2 separate regions of the Homo sapiens genome follow, and region 1 is linked to region 2. Evidence: fine-mapped expression QTL. A gene starts in region 2. The other region holds a variant in brackets. All regions are shown on one strand. Distances are between the middles of the regions.

Region 1 (9,118 bases), 71 kb after region 2:
TCATGTAGGAGAGATTAATTTGGGAGATTCTGACACCGTGAAAGATCTGAAAGAAACATTCATCATCTATTCTCTCTGAGAGCTGCTACCTGTGAGGTTTCATCTACATAACAAGACCACCTTTGTCAGCCAGTCCTCCTCTTCTCCTCCTCCCATCATCTGTCTTGCCAATAGAACATGATTGACTACCATAATTGTTTTTTGGCCATGCTCTGAGCCTCCATTCATTCTGTAACCTCAAGATGGTATATTTAAGCTTCTGTACTTTGTTGGGGGTGGGCTCTTTATTCTGAGGGCTCCTGTGTATACACACGTTGAATAACTTTGTATGCCTTTTCTCCTATTAATCTGCCTTTTTTTTCAGACAGAGTCTTGCTGTGTCGCCCAGGCTGGAGTGCGCTGGCCTGCTCTCGGCTCACTGCAACCTCTGAATCTGTCTCTCTGGTTCAAGGGATTCTCATGCCTCAGCCTCCTGAGTAGCTGAGATTACAGGCACACACCACCACGTCCAGCTAATTTTTGTATTTTTAGTAGAGACAGGGTTTTGCCATGTTGGCCAAGCTGGTCTTGAATTCCTTACCTCAACTGATCTGCCCACCCCAACCTCTCAAAGTGCTAGAATCACAGGTTTGAGCCACAGTGCCCGGCCTTAATCTGTCTTTTGCGAGTTGATTTTTCAGTGAAACTTCAGAGGGCCAAAGGTTTCGCTTTGGCCCCTACAACATATATGCAAGCAATAATTATTTTGCATCTTTAATCCAGATCATTATTAACTTTAATTTTTGGAGTCTGCTTAATAGTGATGAAAACTTCCAAGAAAATTCTGATGGTCAGAGTGAAAAAAGATTAATGTGGGATTTTACTGGATATTTTTCTAACATTCATGCATGATTATGACCAAGATTATGGTTTTCATAATGAGGTTACTATGCCACATGTATATACTTTTTTTTTGTTTGTTTGTTTGAGGCAGTGTCTCACTCTATTGCCCAGGCTGGAGTGCAATGGCATGAACTCAGCTCACTGCAGCCTCCACCTCCCAGGTTCCAGCAATTCTCCTGCCTCAGCCTCCTGAGTAGCTGGGATTACAGGCATGTGCCACCACACCCAGCTAATTTCGTATTTTTTGTAGAGATGGGGTTTCACCATGTTGATCAGGCTAGTCTCGAACTCCTCACCTCAGGTGATCCGCCCGCCTCGGCCTCCCAAAGTGCTGGGATTATAGGTGTGAGCCATCGTGCCCGGCCTATCTATATAATTTCTAATATTATCCTTCCTTCTCTGATGTAAACCAAGTAGAACAGTGGGCACCAAAGCACAGTGCATGGCCTAGCCCCTTCATTGACGGAGGGATGGAGAGCAAGTCACTTCTCTCCTGTAGCTGGGGAGATAAAACAGGGAAGACCAAGAGGACTCAGGGCAGGCAGGCCTGGAAGCCTACTGAGGAATAACAGTAATTATACTCAGCATTAATATTATGTATTGAGTTCTTCCTACACATAACGCTAAGTGCTTTACAGATCTGATCGCTGAAACAGCCCTGTGAGGTGGGCATCCTTATCTCCAGTGTACAGAGAAGAATCTGAGGCTCAAAGAGGCTGAATCATGGCCCCACGTTGGAACAGTCCTTGGAGGCAAGAGCACAGCTAAGTGCAGGCCTGCCTGGATCTCCAGCTCAGCTGTCAGACTATGCAAAAGGCCTCCAAAAGAGAACAGAGGCTTTGTGTTTGCACGTGGACTAGCACAGCTCACCAGGATCAAAGGCCAAGGAGTCTCTGGCAGGGATTAGGCCATCCCCCACCTACCAGCAGGTATTCCCAGGAAACCATTGAGGAAGCAGGAGACAGCCAGGCCAAGCCGGCCCATCGAAGGGCAGACATGCTAGAGTCTCTGTTCTTTGGAAGGCACAAGCAAAGCGAGCCTGTCACCTGCTGACTTGGAGGAGAAAGGGAGAGAGGAACCCAGATAGTGTGGAGGCTGCAGTGGATCCACTTAGTGGGCGATACGTGTCTCTCCAAGGGGGCTACATTTGGAAGGGGCCACAGTGCAGCGGGCGAGAGTGCTGCATTTCTGTGTGATGAGTTTGAGGCAGGCATCCACATAGACTTGTACCAGAGGCACCTGAAGATGCAGACAGGGAACTGGGACACAGGTTTCCATAAGGATGAGGATGGATGAGGATGTTTCTTCCCGCCCAAGTCTAGTCCCCTCCACCTCCCACCATTTGGCCTCAGAGGGCCAGCTTCCTGAAAATAATTTCCAAACGGACCCTGACCCACTCTTTCTTAGTCCTTGCCTTCAAGAATGTGGGGACCATCTGTGTCAGGCCAGAGTCTACAGTGACGGATGTTGTGATTTGTTGCTCCAGGAACGGGGCTGCATGTGGAAGCCCTTGCTGGTTTCTGTGTTGAGCGGTTTACTGCAAAGTTAGCTCTTACCTCCCATGCTCAAAGGCGATCGACCAGCTTGAAGTGGACTGATGACTATTTAACCTCTTAATAGACTTCAGACGGACAACGGGCTTTCCCTGAATACCTGGCACACGGGGAATATGCTGTGAAATTTGCTGAGTGAGTGAGTGGGCAAATGAAAACATGGTCTCCTTCTACTTCCAGTTTGAAAGGAAGTTAATCTAACTCGGGTGGTGTCCATGAGATGTGAGCATGCCTCTCTGTGCTTTCAAAAGTTCCACAAAACAGGTCAGGCACGGTGCTCACGCCTGTAATCCCAGCACTTTAGGAGGCCAAGGCGGGCGGATCACCTGAGTTCAGGAGTTCAAGACCAGCCTGGCCAACATGGCGAAACCCTGTTTGTACTAAAATTACAAAAATTAGCCGGGAGTGGTGGTGGGCGCCTGTAATCCCAGCTACTTGGGAGGCTGAGGCAGGAGAATCGCTTGAACCCGGGAGGCAGAGATTGCAGTGAGCCGAGATTGCGCCACTGCACTCCAGCTTGGGTGACGGAGCGAGACTCCGTCTCAAAAAACAGCAACAAAGAAACCTTCCACAAAACAAATCCTAAATTGGATTCTATGTCTCCAACAATAGGGAAATGATTAAGTAAATAACGGAAAGAGTTATACAACATTTTTTCAGGAATTTTTAGTGACAGTTAAAAACTTATTAAGTAAAAAAGTCAAGAAATAGATTTTAAATTACACTCTGATATCAAGTATGTAAAACACTTATGCTGAGAAAAAGACTGGATATAGCAGAAGGGTGGTCACCGATAAGGGGTGAGGCTTCCGGAGGATCGTGCGAAGTTTTCTGGGTACTTCCTGGTGTGACGCTGCATAGTGATGTGGTGAAAATGGCAAGTTCCTGGAGGGCTTGAGGTGGGTGGAAGTTTGCATTCTCAGGGAAATGCTTGGAATAGTCGTTGATTGGATGGTTCTCTACATTCTTCAGATTCCTCTGCAGAGTGCATTTCTTTCTCCCTCTCTCAAAGTGTGGATTAAATTGTTTTGAGCTGGTTTTGTCTGCAGCAATTAGTTATCTTAACTAAAGCTCATAAAAAAACAACAACAGAAAGGTAACATGAATGAAGGCCATGTCCTAAAGTTGTACAGGAAACAGACTAGGGAGCAGAGAAACGGGTGTGGGGCGGAGGGGAAAGGAAGGTGGGGGTGGAAGGTGGGGTGGAGGAGTCCAGCCTTCCCTTCCAGCAAACAGTAAGCAGCTTTGAGAAATGGGGAGGGGGCAAACTGATCTGAAATGAAGAGGATGGCCTCAAGGATGGCCCAGCTAGAGAGAGACCCACCATAAGTACTGCTCTAAAACCTTGGCCACTCCAGCTCTGGCCCCGCCATCAGCAACTGCTGGGTGTGTTAGAGACCCAGGCTCTCAAGCCCCAGCCCCAGGGCCCCAGAGCCTGCTTGTCAAAGGATTCTCCCTCGGTGAATTTGTGTGCATCAAATGAGTTTGATGCAACCCTTTCTGAGAGAGGGGGTTTCAGGCTCTGCCTGCCTGGAGGGTGAGAGGAAGTGGCAGCTCAGAAAAATCTAGAAGGGAGAGACGGGGGTCAGAGGATTTGCCGGACAGCCTGGCACCCAGAAGCAGCAGTGGCTGGCTCATGGTGCAACCCAGGGAGCCATGTGGACGATGGGGTCGATTGTTGACATCAGCACTGAGACGAACCCACCCAGCCTCATGTTAAACAATCAAATCTTAAATGATTGAGAGGTGCTTCACACTAATCTTGGCTCTTGAACAGTGGGGGCTGTTCCATAGGCTCAGTGTAATCAAGAATCATTCTTGCTCTGCTTCCGAGGGAGAAGGCGTTCACCTCTGCATTAATTTCAGCTGTGTGGGGAGACGTGCTCCCTGAATTTGGTTCCATCCTGAGTGGGAGGGTTGCTAGTCTCAGAAGCCTCTTCTAAGTTTCTCTTTTGA[C/T]ATCTGCTTTGGGCAACAACATGGCCACTGCTTCCTAGAGAAATGGGAAGAGAAACCCTCACAGTTCAGAGGGTGAGAGTGGCTGATCCCTCCCCCATCTGTTGACACTCCTGGAAACTTTTGGGGACTTCTGGGGATGGGGCAGAGGGGCCTATTGCAGAGGGTACATCTTCCCACAGGTTAGATGTTGACGCTCCAGCTGCCCCTGGCCACCGATGGCAGATGATTTCCTGAGCCAAGGATCCTTTCTTGGATTCTGGGTCTCCCTCACTTAGGAAGTAGAAGAGAAACTTTCATTTCCAAAGTGTTACTCTGCCATGAAATCCATCAATGTGGAGTGGCAGAACAGAGAGCTCAGCAGTTCCATTATCTGATGGAGCTCAGACAGTGCAGAAAAACAAAGTGTTTCCCTTCTCAGTGTGTGTGTGTGTGGCTTTTTTTTTTTGGGGGGGGGGTGGTCATTGTTAAACTGACACAAGGTGACCTGATAGGGGAAGGAAGATCTGTGATTCATTAACACTCTCTCCCTTCATCTTTGTAATCGTCATCATTTTCATTTCTTCCAGCAGTCTCAGGACCTGCCTCCAAAGGCAGGTCCTGAGGGTTCACAAGAAACCTAGAGCTGGGCGAGCTTGCTTCCCTCCTGCTGGGTTCAGCCCTAACTGCCTCTTCCTCAGCCCCGCCCTGCACACCTGCAGTTAGGGCACCGAGGCAGCCCTAACGCTTCTGAGGAAGTGGGTTTTGTGGGTAGGTGGAGTTCTATGTCCCAGAGGGTGAGGAACTGGGCACCACACCCATCCCTGTATGCAGTGGGTAGAGTGGCCTAGAGGGCCAAACCTGGGAGGAGGGTAGGGAGGACCCTCTCTGGCCCATCCTCTGCTTCTTCCCGCATGCCCCTGAGGGCTGCGTTGATGTCCTCATTTCCATATAACTCCAGTGACACAGAAGCTCCTTGTGAAGTGAGCTTTCCTGCCTAATTGAAAGACACCAGCAGAACATGACTCAGGGTGGCAGTCGTCCTGCCCTGGCACTAGGCAGGTCACCCAAACCTCCTTGTTCCTCCAGATGAAGATGCTAAAGCCTGGCCAGGTGAAAGAGGAAGAGGCAGGTCACCCAAACCTCCTCATTCCTCCAGAAGAAGATGCTAAATCCTGGCCAGGTGAAAGGGGAAACTCAACCCCAAGGAGTCAGGTCCAAAGGGACGGGTCCCCAGGGACTAACTGGGACAGGGGTCTGAAGGGACCACCAGCAGGTCAACCCACCCACCAGCCTCACCCGTGCTGTGTCCCCAGACATGAAGCCAAGAGAGCAAGTTCCCTAAATTCCCTTCCCACCTCTGCCACGACCAGCTGGGTCTTATAGTCACTCCCTGCCCGGCCTCATTCCCAATAAAACCCAACCACCAGGGGCCCCGCCACTGGCTACCACTTAGCTCGCTCTCACCCCCATCCCTGTGACCTCCCCCAGAATCTCCTATGGCTTTTCCCACCACCCTCCAACCATTACCAGTGAGGCTTGGGCCCAGGGTGTGTCCGGGCCTCTCTTGCCACCCACCACCCTTCATCTTTGTAGCCCGCTTTCCTGCAAGAGGGAATTCTCTCTTCCCATTACAACAGGGCCTGTGGCTTGAGCACCCAGGGTGCATGTGTACAGACTTGGGGAGCAGGGGCTCAGCTCCAGGCACTTCTAGGACCCTGGACCCTGAAATTTATATAGTGTTCCTTTATCTGGTAGCTCATGTCACTCATTAAGAGTTGTTCCATTTCTGGTGGGGTGCGGTGGTTCACGCCTGTCATCCCAGCACTTTGGGAAGCCGAGGCAGGCAGATCACCTGAGGTCAAGATGAGCCTGGCCAACATGGTGAAACCCATCTCTACAAAAATACAAAAATTAGCTGGGCATGATGGCAGGTGCCTGTAATCCCAGCTACTCAGGAGGCTGAGGCAGGAGAATCGCTTGAACCCGGGAGGCAGAGGTTGCAGTGAGCCGAGATCGCGCCATTGCACTGAGCAACATGACTAAGCAAGACTGTCTCAAAAAAAAAAAAAAAAAGAGTTGTTCCATTTCCTAATTTTGAAGGGTTTCATTTTACAAAGATTTGGAATGTGTATTTCTCCCAGAACAATAATTTCTTTTTATTTGTTGAAATGGTGTAAGCAGAAGTGTCATGCTAAATGTCTGTACATGGTTTCCATTCTCTTATGTAAACTCCATTTTTATAAATAGAGAATTCAATTTGATTCAACTTTAAACAGATGCTACAGTTAATTTTGAGCAATTGTTAATATGTGTGGGAACATGCTTTGAAAATAAGTCCGTGATCCCAATCTGTGCTCTGAGTGTTTTCATTGAATTGAGCACAGAAGTCCAATTCTGGAGAGATGAAAACACAACAAAGCCAAGATGATTTGAAACTGGCCTTATCTAAAGTTTTGTTCCTTTAAAAAATCAAAACGTCATTTATTTTCCTTCCACCCCAGCCCCCGTCTTCCCAGCTTTGATCTTTCTACTTGTCAGAATATTGCATCAATGACACTGGAAATATTTATTCAACAAATACCTATTAAGCCCCAATTAGAGGCTGGATGTTGCATTTGGTCCTGAAAATTAGACAAATACGTTCCCTGTTCTCAAGGAGCTTATAGGCCTGGGTAAGGTAATTGCAGACACCTGAAGTATAACATACACCTGAAGACTCTAACAGGGACACCTATCTCCCGAAAGGATCGAGGCATGGCCCTCCAATTAGGTTGACTTCAAAGTGTGAGGGGAGCCCAGGGGATTTCCAGTCCTAGGAAAAACCTTCACAGCCACCAAGAACTTTCATGTTTTAGTTTTCAATTAAGCCCTTTCCTTACATAAATTTTCTTCTGGATTCAAAGTCATTCAAAATGATGATTCACTCTACCTGGCAAAATATGCCGTCTTTAAAATTATTAATATAATTGTATCAGTTTTCTATTGCTGCTGTAGCAAATTACCACAAATGTGGTGCTTAAAACAAACCAAATTTATTATCTTAGAGTTCTGAAGGTCAGAAGTCTGGCATGAGCTAAAATCAAGGTGTTGGCAGGGCTGTGTGTCCTTTTAATATTTTTTATTTTTGGTGGCCTTAACAGAGGGTTGATATTTTGTCACATCTCATCGACCTGTCTATTATTATTATTATTTTTTGGTGGGGGATGGGGACAGGGTCTCGCTCTGCACTACAGGCTGCAGTGCAGACAAAATTGTGGCATGGCTCACTGCAACCTCAACCCCCCTGGGCCCAAGTGATCCTCCTACTTCGGCCTTCTGAGTAGCTGGGACCCCAGACATGCACCACCATGCCTGGTTAGTTTTTTATTTTTGTAGAGTCAAAGTCTTACTATCTTGCCCAGGCTGGTCTCAAACTGCTGGACTCAAACAATCCTCCACCTCAGCCTCCCAAAGTGCTGGGATTACAGGTGTGAGTCACCGCGCCCGCCCACCTGTCTCTTCTGCCTCCTTCCGCATTTAAGGGCCCTAGTGATGGTACACCTGCATAACCCAGGTGATTTCCCTATTTTAAGGTCAACTGATTGACAACCCTAATTCCAGCTACAAACTTAATTCTTTACCATGTCATATAACACATTCATAGGTTCCTGAAATTAGGACATGGACATCTTTTGGGGGCAGGGTGGGGGGATGCCATTATCCTGCCATCTACAAGAATATAGTTGTAATTATGTGACGTGCTGACCTCCTGTCTCAGCATCATGCTGTGCGGTGCAGACCTGAAGCTGTGAGCACACACCCTGTTGACGGAAGCAGCCGCTCTCCTATGTGATGAGGCTGTGGTTATCATTCTCCTCATCCTGATACCTCTTTTCTCTCACTGGGGATCCCTGCCAGCTTCTGCAACACAAAACTTCATTTTTATCTCCTAGTCTATTTGTTTTGTTCCCTAATAATGTCGGGTTTTTTTCTATGGTTTCTAAAATTCTTGCCACTGTTCAGCCATTTTTATACTTCTTGGAACTTTTTGAATTTTGAATAAGTAAATAAATGCTCAAATATGCATCAAACTCTGTAAATAAACAGAAGCAATTACAAGTTTTAGAAATAGTCTTATGCATTATGGTAAACTCAAACTCAGTGACGTGTTTGAAGTTACTTGTCATAGAATTCCTCAGCTCAGATTTAAGCTCAATTCACATATACAGTCCCTACCTTCTGGTTAATGTCAACATTCATGAATAGGCGTGGCCTTTGCAGGAGTGAGCTCAGGGAACCATGCTCCATGAAGCTCAGGGAAGCATACCTGAGTGTCCTATGCATGGATGACAAAAATCATTCCTTCCTTCCTAACATAATTGACCTTTACACTTTATGAGTAATGGTTACATGAAAAACACACCCAGCTGAAGCTTGGGGAAATATATCATGACTCACTCATCCATTCCACAAATACTAATGCAAGCTGTTGGCATGCTTGTATCTTAATATCAGGGCCACGTGCTTCTTTGCTGTCCGGGCTCTATCTGATCTCAAGGAACAGAGACAGCATGGCAGAGGTTACCATAGTTAATGGTGTTCAGCTTGTTTATCTTAAAGATATCTACAGGTAGAAAGAAAAAAAAAAAGGAAACCAGTATAAATGCTCCTGTAGAGGCTGCACACAGTAGAAATCAGTCCAACCTCATATAAACTGATTGACATATAGGCTTAAAGTTGGTCCTCATAACCCAGTTATCATGGGAAGC
Region 2 (9,118 bases):
GAGATGTAAAATAGTGTTATATAAGAATTATATTTGAAAATATTACTGATAGGAAAGATAATGGCTTCTATTTATTATTATTATTTTTTGAGATGGAGTTTCGCTTTTGTTGCCCAGGCTGGAGTGCAGTGGCGCGATCTTGGCTCACTGCAACCTCTGCCTCCCAGGTTCAAGCCATTCTCCTGCCTCAGCCTCAAGAATAGCTAGGATGACAGATGCCTGTCACCATACTCGGCTAATTTTTATATTTTTAGTACAGATGGGGTTTCACCATGTTGGTCAGGCTGGTCTCAAACTCCTGACCTCAGATGACCCTCCCACCTTAGCCTTCCAAAGTGCTGAGATTACAGATGTGAGCCACCATGCCCAGCCCAGATAATGGCTTCTAAAATTTTATATCTATCTCAGGAATGTAATAGAGATCGACAATTATTAAGGAAGACTTGAAGCGGGGGAGCCTTTTAGCTTTTTGATTTAAATTTTTTTTCTTGGAGAAAACAGCAACAACAACAACCATACAAAACACTAGCAGTGGTGATCATTGGGAAAATAAAAACCTGAATTGTTTCAGCCCTGTTGCTTAGCAAAATAAAAAATAAGGCACCCTGATTTTTTTTTCCTTAGAATTATAAACTTGAATGGCCAATAGAGTAGTGGATCTTTTTTATTTTCAGGCTTTGGACCACTTGAATGAAGCAGGAGCTTGCAGGCATCACAGATTTTCATTTATCTCCCCCCAGATCTACCGTCCCATCCACAAAACTTCCCTTGGCACCAGTGTCTTAGTGGCTTCCACTGTTACGTAGCCTGAGTCGGCGTTTCTCCTGGAGTTGAGGGGGTTGCACTGCAGTGATGGTGACTGGTTTGTCTAGCATGCCCTGGGGCTTCTGGAAGTATTGGTTTGGTTCTTCCTTAAGGAACCTCTCCTGACAGATAAAAGGCTTCAATCCTGGACCACCTGGCTTCAGGAGCTTCAGGCCTTGTCACTTTGTCTGCCAACTGGCCTCCTTCATTCTCGACTCCCAGCCCCATTCTCCATTTACAGCTGCTCATGCCTGCCTGCGAATTAGATGCAAAAATCAGTTTTCTTCCCTTCTCTGGTCTCAGCTGGGTTTCCTGGATGCTCTTTTCTGATCTCTTCCACCAATTGTGATTCTTTGAACAGTTCTCCTAGTAAAGCGACTTCCTGCTCTGCCAGGTTCCTGGCTCCCCTCTCCCAGCAGATAACCCACAGGTCTCACAGACAAGACCCACACTGGCATCAATGGCTCTGAGCTCTGAGCCCCAAGCAAAGCACCCATGGGCCCCTGGCACTTTCTCAGTTTAACCAGTAGGGCTCTATTCCTGCATCTCCATAGAGAGAAGAAAAGCAGGGGGTCACTTATCCATCATTCATTCCATAACTATGGACTGAACATTTGCTAAGCACTAGGCCAATGTGCCTCTGTAGAGCCCTTCATCTATTATCCGAGAAGCTCAGCAGAGGGCACTCCTGTATTATAACAGTTAAGCACCGGGGCAGTGAACCTGAACCCAGAGTTCCACAGCAGGTCTGCAGTGAGAACATGCAAATAACCCCACACTTATGCGCGCACGCGCGTGTGTGTATGTGTGTACACGTGTGCCCATGTTCTGGTCTTTATTTACTCATCATATTCAAGAATAAATGGGATGCTCCCTTTTGCATTTTAGGTTATTAGCCTTACTCAAGCAAAGATAATAATGCCATGATATATTGCTCATCGGATTCACTCAAAAGTCATTTTAATTGGTGGCACATTTTATTTCAAAGCCCTTAAAGGGAAAAAAAAGAGAATATTTTAGGATGCAATTTCAAAATTACTGCCAAGTTATTGCCTTCTGTTTGCTTGAAATAATTGAGTTCTTCTCTGGATGCAGTCATCTTGATGAAGAATAGAAAGGAGAGGACCTGAAATGTCACTGCTGCTGGAAGAGGAATTCATCTCAGGCAGACACAAGTACATGCTATTCTTTGAAAAAATCTCTCCTTCTGATTAATTAAAATGAAGTAAGTGCCACAGTGCAGCCAATATTTTCCACTCAGTGGAATTTAGCCATGATGTATGTCCATGAAGAAATAGGCTCAAAGTAGGCCTTACATGTCTGATATGAGTGGTAAACATTACCTTCCTTTTCATAATTCCAGTGTTTTTCAATAAAAATCCACATTTGAAGGAAAGTTACCAGTCGACTCAACCAAATGATATTTTTATGTGTTAGAAGTTAAATTATCAACTGTAAAATTAACTTATCACCTGGTGAGTGAAATTAGCAGGTAGAGTGGTTGCTATTCAATTATGGTGAGTTGCTGTTTAATGGCTGTGTTCTGGAAGGCTCTATTAATGTCTATTAATCTGTTTTTTCCTACTGGACAGCAGACAGCCCTTTATTGCTAAACCCCATCATGGTGGTGCAAAATGTGGAGGCTGCAGTCAAAACCACTGAGGCTCTTGGTAATAATTAGCATAGCACCAAAAAGATACATCGGATACTTTACTAAAATATCTCCTTCCTACCACCTTAAAACTTAAAGCAAGTCTTGACTAGGGGAAAAGGAAGTAACACAAAGGTAATCTGTGGAAGCCGGATGGAGAGGCTTCCAGTCTGATCTGTCTCTTTCCAAATGTCCAGGTCCCAGGCTACTAAACCAAAGGCTCATCTTGGGTTGGGGCTCAGCCTCGGCCCTGCCTGTGGCAGAGAAGAAAGAGAAACAAGAAACAGTCTCATGAGAAGCTGGCTATCTATGGGGCAGGCATTAAAGAGAGTCAAGAAAATCACTCCAAAAACACAAAATCCTGTCTCCCCAGGGTTCCCAATAACGGAAACATCATCATTATGAATTATGCCAACATATGTTGTTTCTGTTGCCTCACTAGAGTTGCTCTTTTGGTGACAGATCCTGGATTCTTCTTGGAGAACCACCCTTCCCGATTTCAACCCCTGGGCCACATCCACTGGTGTGTTCCCTCCTCCTGGACTGCAGTCCTTGATCCAGGGTGCGTGCTCCAGGCTTTGGTTAGAGTTACTGGGAAAGAGTTGTACCTTTTCCTTTCCAGGATCTAAACCAAGGATGTGAGTCCAAGGCTGCCAGAAGGAAAAAGAATCAACACAGGGGAACACGGAGGAGGACTGGAGAGACACCTGCTCGAAAGACTCCTTTTGAGCTCCTGGGTCTAGCCATGCCTGAAGAGGACCTTTATCCTTAACTTTTCAGTGATGTCAGTGAATACATTTCCATTTTTATTTAAAATGAAGTAAGTGGCACAGTGCAGCCAATATTTTCTGTTGAACTCTATCCTTCGGGTGGCTCACTTTATTCCTCATTGAAGGAAATAGCGTGTGGGTAGAGTGGGATGTGAGGAAGAGGGCAGGCAGGTGCCCAGTTTTGTGCATACAGACCCTTGGTCCTGGAGCAGGCAGTGGGCCTCTAGGTTCTGCCTTAGCCGTCACGGGCGCCTAGGCCTTGTTACCTCACTGGACAACGTTGGGTGGAATGATAGGCAGGGTCCTTTCCAGCCTGATACTTCGTTTCCAGCCCCAAATCCACTCAGTAGAGTGGATGGTCGCTCCGGCTGCCACCTTGGGAATTCCAAGGATAGGGGTGGTGGTGGCTTGTCCTTCCTTCTACAGGTGAGGTCTTCTCACATGCTTTGGTACCAACGATATCATATGTCTTTTCGTGGTTTGTGAACAGAAGGTGATAAAGTATTTCTCTAAAATTCTAGCTTTTATTCATAAATTCTTAGCATTTTCATTTTCTTCTCCCTTGACCCCGTTTCCGTCGTTTCTGTCTCATAAGCTAGAGCTGGGAAGATGCGGTCGCCCATGCTGCGGCCTGCTGTCTCCTGCGGAGCAGCTCTCCCCAGATCTGTGTGTTTGCCATAATATACTCTCACTTTTCTCCGCACCCAGAGAGGATATACATTTGTTACATGTTTACAAACCAGAATAAAACCATTGAACTGAGGTGACAGGAGGTGGAACCCGTGGAATATCAGTGTTTGTAACCCACTGCGCCACCAGCTCCAAGCTGTAGACACATTTTCTTTCAGCCCCCGGGGCTGGTGTTGCCATTTCTGCGGAGTAGTTCACCTGCGGGCAGGTGGTTCTCAGTTCCCAAAGTCGGGTGGCAAGGGGTGCTCTCCCGAAATGCTGACGCTTCCCCTGGGATGTCAGCAGAGTCGATGCGGACGAAATGAGGTAGCCCAGGCGTGTCTGGGAGGGTGAGCTGTCCGAGCTACTTGGGGCAGGTAGGTCTTCTAATCCCCCATCGCGGCCTAGGTCCGACCCTGCCCCAACCGCCGCCACCGGGCAAGAAAGGCTGGGCCTCCAGGGTGCCCTGGGCACAGGCCTGGGCTCCGGAGGGCGGCGCTGGCCGGGTGCAGCCCCCTGGAACCCAGGCAGGAGGCGAGCCTGGGCGTCACTGGGGGCCGGGGCCGGCGACAGCCGCGGCGCGAGGGTGGGAGGGGACGCGCCCGGCTGGATCCAGAGCGCAGGCTGGCAGCTCACCGAGGCCAGCCCCGTCCCGTCCCTTCTGGGGTTTGGAGGCCCCAGCCTCGCCGCCCTCACTCCCCAGAGCGGCGCTCTCCCAGTCACCCTGGGGGCCGCCCTGCCCCGCCTCGCGCCCACAGAGCTGGGACCCCGGGACCCACTCCCTCAGGCAGGCTGCGTCGCCCACGGCTGCGGCCCGGAGGGGCAGGGGGCGGGCTAGGACCCGGGCGGGGATTCCGGGAGCCGAGAGCTATTTTTGCAAACGCGTCAGCCGCTGGGGAGGAAGAGCCGGCTCCGCGCCCATTGTGTCTGCGCGGCGCGGCGCGGGAGGGGCCGGGGGGCGGCGGGGGGCGGCGGGGACGCAGCGAAGCGCGCGAAAACGGCCGGCTGGGCGGGGAGGACCGCGCCTGACCCCCGGCGGCGGGCGGGGCGGGGCCCGGGGCGGGTCCGGGGGCGGGTCCGGGGCGGGGCGCGAGGGGGCGGGTCCGGGAGCTCTCCGGCCGCTGCAGGCTGGCGGCTGCTGCGGCGGCGCGGGGACTGTGAGGCTGCCGAGCGGACAGCGACTCCCGGGGAAGCCCGCGCTCCGGGAGCGGGAGCGGGAGCAGGAGCAGGAGCAGCGCCGTCCCAGGCCAGAGGCGAGCGCCGGGCGCCGGGAGAGCGGAGAGCCCGGGCAGCTGCCGGAGCGCGGGGGCGCGGCCCGAGGAAACCACAGAGCGAGCCCAGGCCTGGGGAGGGCGCCGAACATCTGAGGCGGCTTCGCGGGAGACAAAGCCGCGCGTAGAGACGCGATGCCCGCCGATCGCGAGCCCGGCCGGCGAGGGCGCGGGGACTGCGGCGTCTGAGCGCGCCAAGCCGTGCGCCCGCGGGGACGCCGAGCCCCGGGGCCGGTGCGGGCGGCGGCGGGCGGGGCCCAGGTGCGCCCGGCCGCGTCGGGCCCGTGACTGCTCGGGGGGCGGCGCCCTCCCGCCGCAGCCGCAGTGGCTGGCGCCGCAGCCAGGAGCCATGGGCAACATCTCCTCTAACATCTCGGCCTTCCAGTCCCTGCATATCGTCATGTTGGGCTTGGACTCGGCCGGCAAGACCACGGTGCTCTACCGGCTCAAGTTCAACGAGTTCGTGAACACGGTGCCCACCATCGGCTTCAACACCGAGAAGATCAAGCTGAGCAACGGCACGGCCAAGGGCATCAGCTGCCACTTCTGGGACGTGGGCGGCCAGGAGAAGCTGCGGCCGCTGTGGAAGTCCTACAGCCGCTGCACGGACGGCATCATCTACGTGGTGGACTCGGTGGACGTGGACCGGCTGGAGGAGGCCAAGACGGAGCTGCACAAGGTGACCAAGTTCGCCGAGAACCAGGGCACGCCGCTGCTGGTCATCGCCAACAAGCAGGACCTGCCCAAGTCGCTGCCGGTGGCAGAGATTGAGAAGCAGCTGGCGCTGCACGAGCTTATCCCGGCCACCACCTATCACGTCCAGCCGGCGTGCGCCATCATCGGCGAGGGCCTCACCGAGGGCATGGACAAGCTCTATGAGATGATCCTGAAACGCAGGAAGTCCCTCAAGCAGAAGAAGAAGCGGTAATGCGCCCGGAGCGACCGGGGAGCGAGCGAGTGCGTCAAGAAAGAATGAATGGATGGATGGATGGTTGGATGGATGGATGGATGGATGAGCGAGAACCCGCGCCCGCGAACAAAGAGCGAACCAAAGCGATGCTTCGAATTTTTAAAACGGAATCTCTGCACCCAAATGCAGGACTGGTGACTTAAGGAGCTGCGAAGTCTGATTTACCGGCCTACTCTCGACCTGCCCCCCACCCCCAGCTCAGGGGACCTTTTGTCTGAACGCCAGAGCTACTGACCAGGTCGGGGGGCCGCGGTGGGGAGTGGAAGAGCCGGTCCTGCTGTCCGCCCTCCCAGCCCCAGGTGGAAGGCTCAGTTGTCGGAAAGACAAAAGCGATTTCTTCCCACTCCTGCAGGGCCAGAAGTTCAGGCTGCCCCGCCTCCACTGGGGGATCGCACCTGTGAATTACCTGAGGTATGCATTTCCCAGAACCGTGGGCGTACCCACCTTGGGGGGCATGTTGGTTCTGGGGGGACCACCTCTCCTTGCATTCAGGGGCTGTGAAGCTGAGTAATTTTCGGTCACAGGGCAGGCCCCTGTTGAAATTTCATTTGTCCTGCTCTGGGCCCAAAGGTGGTGGTGGTTTGGGTCATCAGAGGACTGCCTGGGACGGTTCAGCGGGCACGGAGCGCTGTGCTGGCCTGGCTGGGGATGGCCGCGGAGGTGCCCTTTTCCTGGTGCTTTGTGGTGGCTGCAGAAGACCAGTTTTGTTGAGAACTGCTTTTCAGCCTGGAATCAGACATCTTCCAGATGGTTTGGACCCTGTCCATGTGTAGGTCATTATCACACAAAGAGACCAATAAAAATAAAAAAAATAAAAAAAAAAAAAGACGAACTATTGGAGGTGGTGGCCAATGATGCATTTACTGTTTGCAGGATAGTTAAAGGTGTTTAAAGGGTAAGGCTTTTGGTGTAAATGCTGGATGGGGTGTGTGTGTGTGTGGATATAGGGACCTCCCTCTGTACTGTGTACTGTGTAATCGGCATTAATACCTAGACTCATATGTATGGAATTTTAAATTCTCTTAGCCTACTGATTGGTTTGGATGAGCACACCAGCTGCAGGTGTGTGCTGAATTGCAAGATGGTATTTTTTTTTTTAACCAAGGGATGTCTCTTGTAATACTAACCGCGTGATAATGGGTTTTCAGACATGATGAAAAAAAAAAACTTTTACAAATGAATACTTACCTTAGAAATATTCACCTTAGGAAAAAAGACTTTGCTCTGCCCTTTTATATTCCTTTATGCTGCAAGTGGTGACATGTTCAGATTTCTAATTTGGTTCATTGTGGCCTATCTGGTTTAAGTCTTTCATTAAAAATGTCTCGTTAGAGTATTTGATGTCATGCACCAAAAAAATAAAACCCCACCTTGTTGCAAAAGCTGACCTCGTTGCATGGAATTAAAAGAGAAGGAAAAACACAAGGATGAAGTCTTTCCGAATTCATTCTTGTGGGAACTGGCCTTCGGAGCCAGCCAGCACTTTGGGCAAATGCAAACAACAATGAGTGCTTGAGATAAAAGAAAGTGTGACGTCATGGTCACTGGTACTCAGGCACTTCACAGTTTACTTGAAAGAGGCTTTGGAAAATAGATAAAGTGAAAGAAGAATAAATACATATTTTTAATAATGTAATTTTAAAAATCCTTTATAATCAGGACTGAGTCTTGGTTTGCAGAAGCTGTCACTTACCCTGAAACACAGTATCAAAAGGGAAACTTAAAACATACTGTTTGATTTTTTTATTTCCTCTTACAATCCATGTTTTCAGGTAGAATTATGACTTTCCCCCCATTGTTACACATTTCTTTACAAAGGAGGCCTGTAGAAATTGGACACGATCATGCTTGAGCATGTGAGTTAGTCAAATTATGAGTCCCTGCCTATTGTCCATTACACACCGAATGTTAATTTAAGAACCAGAGGCAGAAGTTCTGGCTTCCTGCTTGAAACCCAATTCTTATATGAAATTTTTTAAAAGCAGAAACCTAGCAGCCCATCTGCTTTTTCTCTTTTGTCGGTGTATTTGGTACCCCTCCAATGCTGGTCTTTTTGTAGAAACTCAGTAGAGAAAGTCTAGCTAAGCAGTGTTGAAAAGCCTGCAAGATTTCAGTTTACATATCGACAGCATATCCACTGATTTCTAAATGGGCTGGTCCCATCATCTGAAGATTCTGTATAGAATTATTAAAAAAAAAATCCATCTTTCTTTATTTTCTTCACATGCGACAATTTCTTAAGCACTTTGACATTTTGGTAGTTCCACACTATTGAGAGAATAATATATTTATTTTGTGACATTGCAGATGCCAAATACTGTAACCTTCTCATGATAACAATACTTAGGTTCAAGATCACTGTTCAAACCCTGTCATGCTTTAAAACTGATGCGAGATGATTTTGTTTTTTGCATAATCAATACTTAAGGGTGCAATCAACTGTTAGTAATTGTGCAGTAAAGTAAAGCCCTGTGGTGTATCAACTACTAGTTAAGAGTCTCAGTTGATTTCTGTAATGTTTGACCTAATAATAGCCCGTTTCGTCTCTGACCCAACAGAGGAAGCACAGATCAAATCACCTTGGAGTGGTCACCAGGGGGACAGGGAGCCCCCCACCAATGTATCAATGGGTGATTTATGATGCCTTCTGCCCTTTGGCGAGTGAATGGGTTTCCCATAGGGGAAGTTGGCCTCCCTCCGTGAGCTTTGGAAATGTTTTCTAATAGACACAGGGAGGCCAGTTCTGTTTCAGAGCAATTATCTTCCCAAATTCTCTGTTCTGGTGTTGGAACTGTGTGCCCTGGTTTCTGTTTTCCTTTCTACTGCTGTAATTCTCTGTCTCATCATCCTTCTCTTTTGTTTCCATAGCCTTTTATAATGCATATATGATGCTGTGAACAGAAATAAATTATTTATACAATCAAATGACTGGGGAGATTTTCTGTGGAATTTTTTGTTTGTTTTTTTGACATTGCTGGTATTC

Evidence for each region. PIP is the estimated chance that this variant, and not a neighbour inherited with it, causes the effect.
Region 1: its variant is fine-mapped to the expression of ARL4C in monocytes (TOPMed, PIP 0.98).

The regions. Positions count from the first base shown.
Region 1 is chr2:234,422,102-234,431,219 of GRCh38, reverse strand. No RefSeq gene overlaps it. Among named protein-coding and RNA genes, the nearest start is that of LINC01891, 28 kb to the left of the region's middle. RefSeq lists enhancers at 1-371, 2,343-2,914, 2,564-3,763. The variant C/T (reference allele first, on the strand shown) is at 4,392.
Region 2 is chr2:234,492,983-234,502,100 of GRCh38, reverse strand. ARL4C (ARF like GTPase 4C) reads left to right here and starts at 5,020. Exons shown (of 2, transcript NM_001282431.2): 1 at 5,020-6,089; 2 at 6,265-9,060. The coding sequence starts at 5,515. The coding sequence ends at 6,295. RefSeq lists an enhancer at 3,985-4,758 and silencers at 4,943-5,232, 5,343-5,442.